Linked DNA regions of Homo sapiens. The protein of the gene in region 1 interacts with the protein of each later gene in a biochemical or structural test. Each region holds a gene or a part of one and is shown on either strand. Other genes may lie near its edges.

Region 1 (3,495 bases):
ATTATTTCTTCTTTGTTAGGAAAGATCTAAATATGGTCCTTGACTTTTAATAATCATTCTTTAGAATGTTAAATAAAGGCAACCCAAGTAAAGGGAGAAAATGTTTCTTTGTGCTTCCTGTTTGAGAAATTCAGTTGCTTCCATTTCGCATGTTCTGCACATTTATCCGATGTAACCTCAAAAGAATAACTGGTAATAAGGGAAGGAAACAGCAGCAACAATCATTGCTGATTCAAGTTTAAGGTTAAAATATGGAATTTTTAGCTTGGATGATTTATATTAAAATCTTTCCATTTTTTTTTTCAGTTTTGGCTTGATGCCATGTTAAGAATGATGTGAATTCTTCCCAGTTCTGCCCTGGTGCTAGACATTGCCCCATACTTTCAATTAGACACTAGCTGTATCTAAATAGTCCCACTCAGTAAACTTACATCTTGAAAAACAAGACCAGTAAGAGGCCAGTGAAAGTACTAAAGAAAGAAACCAATGTTGTGTGAGTTTCAAAGCAGCTGCAATGCTGTGTAAAAGTAGAGTGTTCATTCTCCATTTCCAAGAGTGTTTCAGAATAGGATGTCTTAAGACTTCAGTCATGTCAGAGATTTTTTTTTTTAGGTGATTATTGAGTTTCTCCTTCTCCTTTAAGTCATCACCTTCCTTTTATGAAATGATAGTAAGGAACTCGTCTATTCTGAAAGGCATTTGAGAAATAGCTGAATTCCTGGCTGCTTTTTTGCTGGGGGTAGATGGTGGAATACTTCTGGTCTAGATATAACTTACCACTAAGAAACCCCCAGTATGTCACCACTGCCTAAATCTAACTAGACCAGGGTCCAAATGCCATCCAGGCCAGGCAGGAAATATACCTCATGTGAAAGACAGTAAGGAGTTGTGGGCAGTGTAACAAACAGGAGAGCTATGCCCCAACTAAAAGGAGCAGCTGCTACTGCTTAGTTTCAGCCAGTTGCAACAGTATGTGGGAATGTAGGCTGCATGGTTGTTAACAAGATAGATGGTAAAAAGATGCCAGAAGATACAGAAGATAGCAAAGAATGTGGGGAATTTGGATACCACACATAGCGAGAGACAATGAAGCATGCTTCCCAGCTCGCCAGAGTGTCACACAGCTGCTCATTCTGCCACCTGCCAGACATTAATGTCTTCCTGCCCTACCTAAACCCCCTCTTTACCTGATATTTTAATTCGAGACTCTAGCTACATGCCCACCTACTTAACAGGTACTAGTGACAGGTACAAAACATTATGGGTAACAATTCTGAGTGTTTAATGCAAGCCCAGGTGAAGCAGGGTAGCTTCCATCAGCAGGTACAGACGTTACGCTGAAAAGAGGTGCATTCTGCATTGCACTCCTGGATCTAAGTTTCTGCATTCTCAGAGCATCAATGCAGCAAGCTTATTGTTCCTCAATTTTTTACAATATTTATCACAACTCTGGGAGAAAACAAAACAAATCCTATCCTATTTACTATTTGTGCTACCTAGTGAGGAGATACCGCTCTGTTTAGACAAATTAAGGCACTTCACATTCTTCCACCAATTGAAAGTTTTGTATCTTACAGTTCTTTTTTTAAATAATATATTTATTGAGCACTTTCTATCTACTAGTCACTGTGATACAGTATAAGTAAAGTGGGTTGTCTCATTTAATATTCAGAATAACCACATGAAGTATGAACTGCCATTATCTTTCCCCTTTGTACAAATGAGGAAAGTGAGGCTCACAGAAGTTAATTGGCCCAGGGTCCCACAACTAGTCAGTGCAGAGGTGGGAAACATAACCAGATTTGTTCGGCATGAACTTGTGCCAAATTTCCTCCAAAGTTCTCAAAAGGCAAGGCATGTTATTTTATCCCAATTTAGCATACCAACAACTATAATACTAGATATGTAGGAAAGTGCTTAATAATCGTTTTTTACTGATGATTCAGTGTCTAAATTTTGAACAAATTTGGGTAAGATACAAGTCACACATAAATTGACAGAAAATGTAGTTCTTCATTCAATGGTTAGCAGTCATTAAAAGGTACTTTCCCTTTGTTTGTGGTGATAATCAGTATTAGTAGTTTTCATATTATTTGGCTTCCATATTAATCATTTTTATATTTTCTTCTCCTTCTTACCATGTTTACTTATATCATCCATCTTTTAGAATCCCAGGGAGCTAATTTCTGGTCCCTGTGTTGCTATCAAATCTGTATCTTGCAGAAAGAATAATTTATTTCAAACAAGGGACATACAATAGAAAGATAAGACCTACTGAGGTCTTTTTCCCATCATTTTATTATGAAAAATGTTCAAACATACAGTAAAATTGAAAGAATTTTATAGTAAATACTGACCACGGGGATTCTACATCTTACTCTACTTGTTTTATTATTTTCCTATCCAGCGTACTTTTTGATGGATTTCAAAATAAATTGCAGTTGCTGATATACTTCCCCCTAGTACTTCAACTGCAGATTATTAACTAGAGTTTAGTATTTATTTAGTTTTTAAATTTTTTTGATTTAAGATTTACCTGCAATAAAATGTACAAATCTTAAGTATAAATTTACTGAGTTCTTGCAGACATATACACCTGTGTAACCCAAACCCTTTCCAAAATTTAGACCATTGCAATCATCTTCAGAAAGTTTCCTAAATCCCTCTCCCAGTCTATCCCCTCCCCACCCCTCAGGTATAACTACTGTTCTCATTCTTTTATATCAAAGGTTAAATTTACCTGTTCTAAACTTCATATGAGTGAAATTATACAAAATGTAATGCTTCTTTCACTTAGCATAATGTTTTTGAGATTTATTCATGTTGTTGCATGTGTCAGTGATTCATTTCTTTTTATTGCTGAGTATTCTTTCGTATGAATATATCACAGTTTGTTTTTTTATCTTTCTGTTGATGGACACTGGGCTCTTTCTGCTTGTTTTTTACTGTTATGAATAAAGCTGCTATGAACATTCTTAGACAATTCTTTTGTGAACATGTGTCTTTATTTCTCTTGGGTAAATACCTGGGGATGGAATTTTCGGGTCCTTGGGTAGGTGTATATTTAGTTTAATAAGAAACTGCCAGACCTTTTCCCCAAAGGATTGTACGATTTTACATGCTTGCAGCAATGTAGGAGACTTCCACTTGCTCCACACATTCTCCAGCATGTGTGGTTGTTAGTCTTCTTTATCTTAGTATTTATGCTGGGTGTGTAATCATTTCTAGTTGATACTCAGATTGTTTCTACTTGTGGTTAGCAACCCTCTTGTCAACTTGACCTCCTTCCTTCCCCAGGAACTGCTGAAAACATCCTTTGTGATAATAGTTAAGATACCCCAAAACTCAGCTTGAATTATTCTTTCTCAAACATGGGATACATTGCTCATCAAAGAACCCTGATTCCTTTAATGGAGATCATAGTTGGGAACAACCTGGGTTCTAAGGGCACGTGTTCCACCGTTTCACATGACTACTGGAGCTGGACAAAATGGC
Region 2 (3,831 bases), on another chromosome or scaffold:
AGATATCAATTATATGGTCAACCTTATCTTTAAAATCCAGCAATTCTTGAACCATGGTTTTATCTTTTTCAGGATTAATTACAATAGTGCTGCCAAATGCCTAAAACAAAAAATTACCACTTTTTACTGTAATCGAATTGTCTACAATGAAAACAATCCCCAAATCATATTTTAAGTGGCATATATATTTAAAGATCTTTAAAAAGTAAGATAAAGCTATTTTTAAGATGGAATCTTGCTATGTTGCCCAGGCTAGTCTGAAACTCCTAGGCTGAAAGGATCCTCCTGCCTCAGCCTCCCAAGTAGCTGGAGTTACAGGCATGTACCACTGCACCTGGCAAAATAAAGCTGATAGTGAAATGAGGACAAAAAAATAAAGTGCTAAATATCCACACTGTTAACCACTCATCTATAATCACAAAAATAGTAAGCAATGATCACTGGGCATATGATATCATAACAGGGTATTATTAGAAGCCTCTGGGATCTTTTCCTTATTTTTAAAGAAGTCAGCTTTCAACTTCCTTAAAATGGCAATCTGGCTTTAGTGTAAGATTGAAGAAAGGAAAGAAATTTGGGGTTCAAAGTCTTTTTCTACATTTACTGCTTTAAGTGGTAGAGACAGAAATTATGTCAGCCATCAATCAGGTTTTATAGCTGATATGCCACACAGCTACCATTCTCAGGTTGACTGTTCTCAAAATTCCCATTACTTTTTAAACAAATTTAAAATTCCCTTAAAAGAACTGGATCAAGTCCGGGTGTGGTGGCTCACGCCTGTAATCCCAGCACTTTGGGAGGCCAAGGCGGGTGGATCATTTGAGTTCAGGAGTTCAAGGCCAGCCTGACCAACATGGTGAAACCCCGTCTCTACTAAAAATACAAAATTAGCCAGGCATGGTGGTGCATGCCTGTAATCCTAGCTACTTGGGAGGCTGAGGCAGGAGAATCACTTGAACCTGGGAGGCAGAGGTTGCAGCGAGCTAAGATCGTGCCACCGCACTCCAGCCTGGGTGACGAGAGCAAAACTCTGTCTCAAAAAAAAAAAAATTGGATCAAACAAGAAATGCTTGCCAATATGCACTCTTGATGTGTAGATAAGCCATAAGAGAGAAAAATCACAGGTAAATTGTTAATACCTTGATATATTCGATCCACTGCTGCAAAAGAACCTGAACTCCACCTCGAACTCTACTGAAGAGCTGATACAGAAGAGACAAATCTTGAATTCGGTTTTCATCAAGGAGGTTATTTAAACCTGTATTTTAAAACATTTTGGCATTAAAATATAGTGAACAAAAAAGTGAACAAGATTATCAGACATTTTAATAAAATTTGAGTTATAATCATTATTGTGATACTGGTTTGAACTATGACTAGTCTGTATGTGAGTTGTAATGTAAGATTTCCTTTGAATTAAACCCAACCATCTTTCTGGGTAAAAACTAAATATAGAGACTTTAGTCGCTATAAAAATAAAAACAGGCCAGGCACGGTGGCTCACACCTGTAATCCCAGCACTTTGGGAGGCTGAGGCAGGAGGATCAATTGAAGCCAGGAGGTCAAGACCAGCCTGGGCACAACAGTAAGACCCCCTCCCCCTCTCTATTTTAATTCAAAAAGTTAAAAAAATTAAAAAGAAAAAGAAAAATGGTTAACTCCATAATGGTTTGTGCCATTTAGCATGATAGATTAGAGGCAAAAACAAACTTATAAAAACTGGCTTACATAAATATACATTATAAATACCTCATATATGTAGTAGCCATATTATGTACATAGTTATATTTCAGAATACTGGATATAGCCTGTGATATATCAAAAGCCATGCATAAATAGGTCAAATTTAAATGAGGCTCTAATAAATATTTGATTTCCAGGATGAAATAACAGTATAACTGCATTAAATTTCTAAATATATAAATTTTTATACAAAAGAAAATATTATTGGGGAGAAAGGTAAGGCTTTTACCTATTTGCGGCATTCTCAAAGTAAAATGTAGGGTATACTCTAAATTCACTTGGGATTAGAAGTGCTTGGTTTGACATGCCATGAACAACAAAAAACCCTCACCGCTTTAGTGTAAAAAGGAATACCTTTCCTTACTGAAAGCTTACATATTAAGTCAAGAATTTCCCACTTTTTTTCTTTTATTTTATTTAAAGAGACGAGAGTCTCACTATGTTGCCCAGGCTGACCTCAAACTCCTGGGCTGAAGCAATCCTCCTGCCTCAGCCTCTCAAGTAGCTGATACTACAGGCACATATCAACCACTGTTTTTTTATTGGTATTTGTGGATCCCTCTCTTCTAGTTCCTGTATCTTTCAGATAAGAAAACTGGCACCTCCAGGAAGTTTACTGTGATTAATAAGGATTGTGTCCATCCTCAGAAATGCAGCCACATGCTATCAAACTTTTAAAAGGGCAACATCTTTAAAAATTCCCTACTAGTTTGCCACTACCATTTAAAAAGCAATCTCTTATTTACAAATTGCCAATTACCTTTCTGAAGAATTGCTGTTAAGTGTTCACCTAGAAGTTGTTTTTCTACAGTAGCAATTAATGACTTCCTACAAGGAAAAAAAAAAAGGTTAGTATTATTGACGTTTGACTTCCAGAAAATGTAAAGCCTCTCCTGAGGGGGGAAAAAAATCAAATAGCTCATTTTATGTTGATTTCAAGATTCCTATCCTATGTATAAATTTATTGGTGCTCAGAGTTACTATACTTTATGCCTAAAAGAAAAAGACATAAAGGAACTGACAGGCAAAAATTTTAAAAAAACACTGCATATTTTAGAATTTGGTTTACATAACGAAATAAATATCTCCAAGACCTTGCTGTAGTCGGCTTTTTCCAAGTTTTGCTACTTTTATTAGGAAGGTAAAGAAGTACTACATACAGAGGCCCCTCGACTGGCAATATTAATACTTAGGAAAGCACAGAAATAGGGGAATCCACTGAATTTTAATTGGCCTGAAGAGTTTAAAGGTCACATCAGCCTCTAGTATTATTTCTAAATTACCTTCTAAACACACACACACACACACACACACACACACACACACACCCCTAATAATCGAATCCTTGGATGAAAACTAATTAACTAGGGAAAAGAATAACTTGAAGTTTGTATTATGAAAACAACTGTTAACACTTCAAATCACACCTGAAAACAGTTACTAACATGTTTAGGATGGCTAAAGTGCTGCAAGTGATTTAACGACAGTTTAAGACTATTAAATTCAGCATGTGGTACTTACTGGGTGGTCTGATCTAAGTAAGTAATAAGTCTGTCTGCTTCTTCTTCTAGACGTTTGTTAACATGATGTAGATATTCAGGAACCTACAAAGATAGTTTTTTACATTATTGTTTTCCTCCCCATAAATCATTCAGAAAATGTCAAGTCCAAAAGATCCTGGAAGTGGCCCTGTCAAATGTGACAGGGTAGAATCATATGTAAAAATTTATAGGTAGAGTTTATGATCCAGAATTCTGGCCTTTAAGAAGAGAGAAAAGAAAGGAGCACCTAAGTGAGAGAAGAGCATCACAATGTTGGGAAGATAAATGCAAAGGGAAGCTTATATTCTACAAAGTAAGGTCTATTGTGAGAGACAGTGAGAATTTATTAGTCATGATTTTTAAATACCTCTCTTTCTTGCATTAATTTTTGGCCTTCAGCTGCATAGAGCCGGTTAGTTTCTTCCAAAAATCGTTGTTCAAAAGAATCTTGATAAATCTGGAGGGGGAACAAAATGAAGGAGATCATTTATTTAGCAAATATTTACTAAATGTCCTCTATGTCTATGTAAACAGCATTATGAATTTG

What was found.
Region 2: the proteins of DCAF17 (region 1) and CUL4B form a complex in vitro, tested with the Homo sapiens proteins (one study listed by BioGRID).

The regions. Positions count from the first base shown.
Region 1 is NC_000002.12:171,482,070-171,485,564, forward strand, and holds the end of DCAF17 (DDB1- and CUL4-associated factor 17), read left to right. Parts: 3' UTR 1-2,983; downstream 2,984-3,495. UniProt on the Homo sapiens protein: May function as a substrate receptor for CUL4-DDB1 E3 ubiquitin-protein ligase complex.
Region 2 is NC_000023.11:120,540,463-120,544,293, forward strand, and holds part of CUL4B (cullin-4B), read right to left. Parts: intron 3,742-3,831; coding exon 3,652-3,741; intron 3,348-3,651; coding exon 3,265-3,347; intron 2,572-3,264; coding exon 2,504-2,571; intron 1,259-2,503; coding exon 1,140-1,258; intron 101-1,139; coding exon 1-100.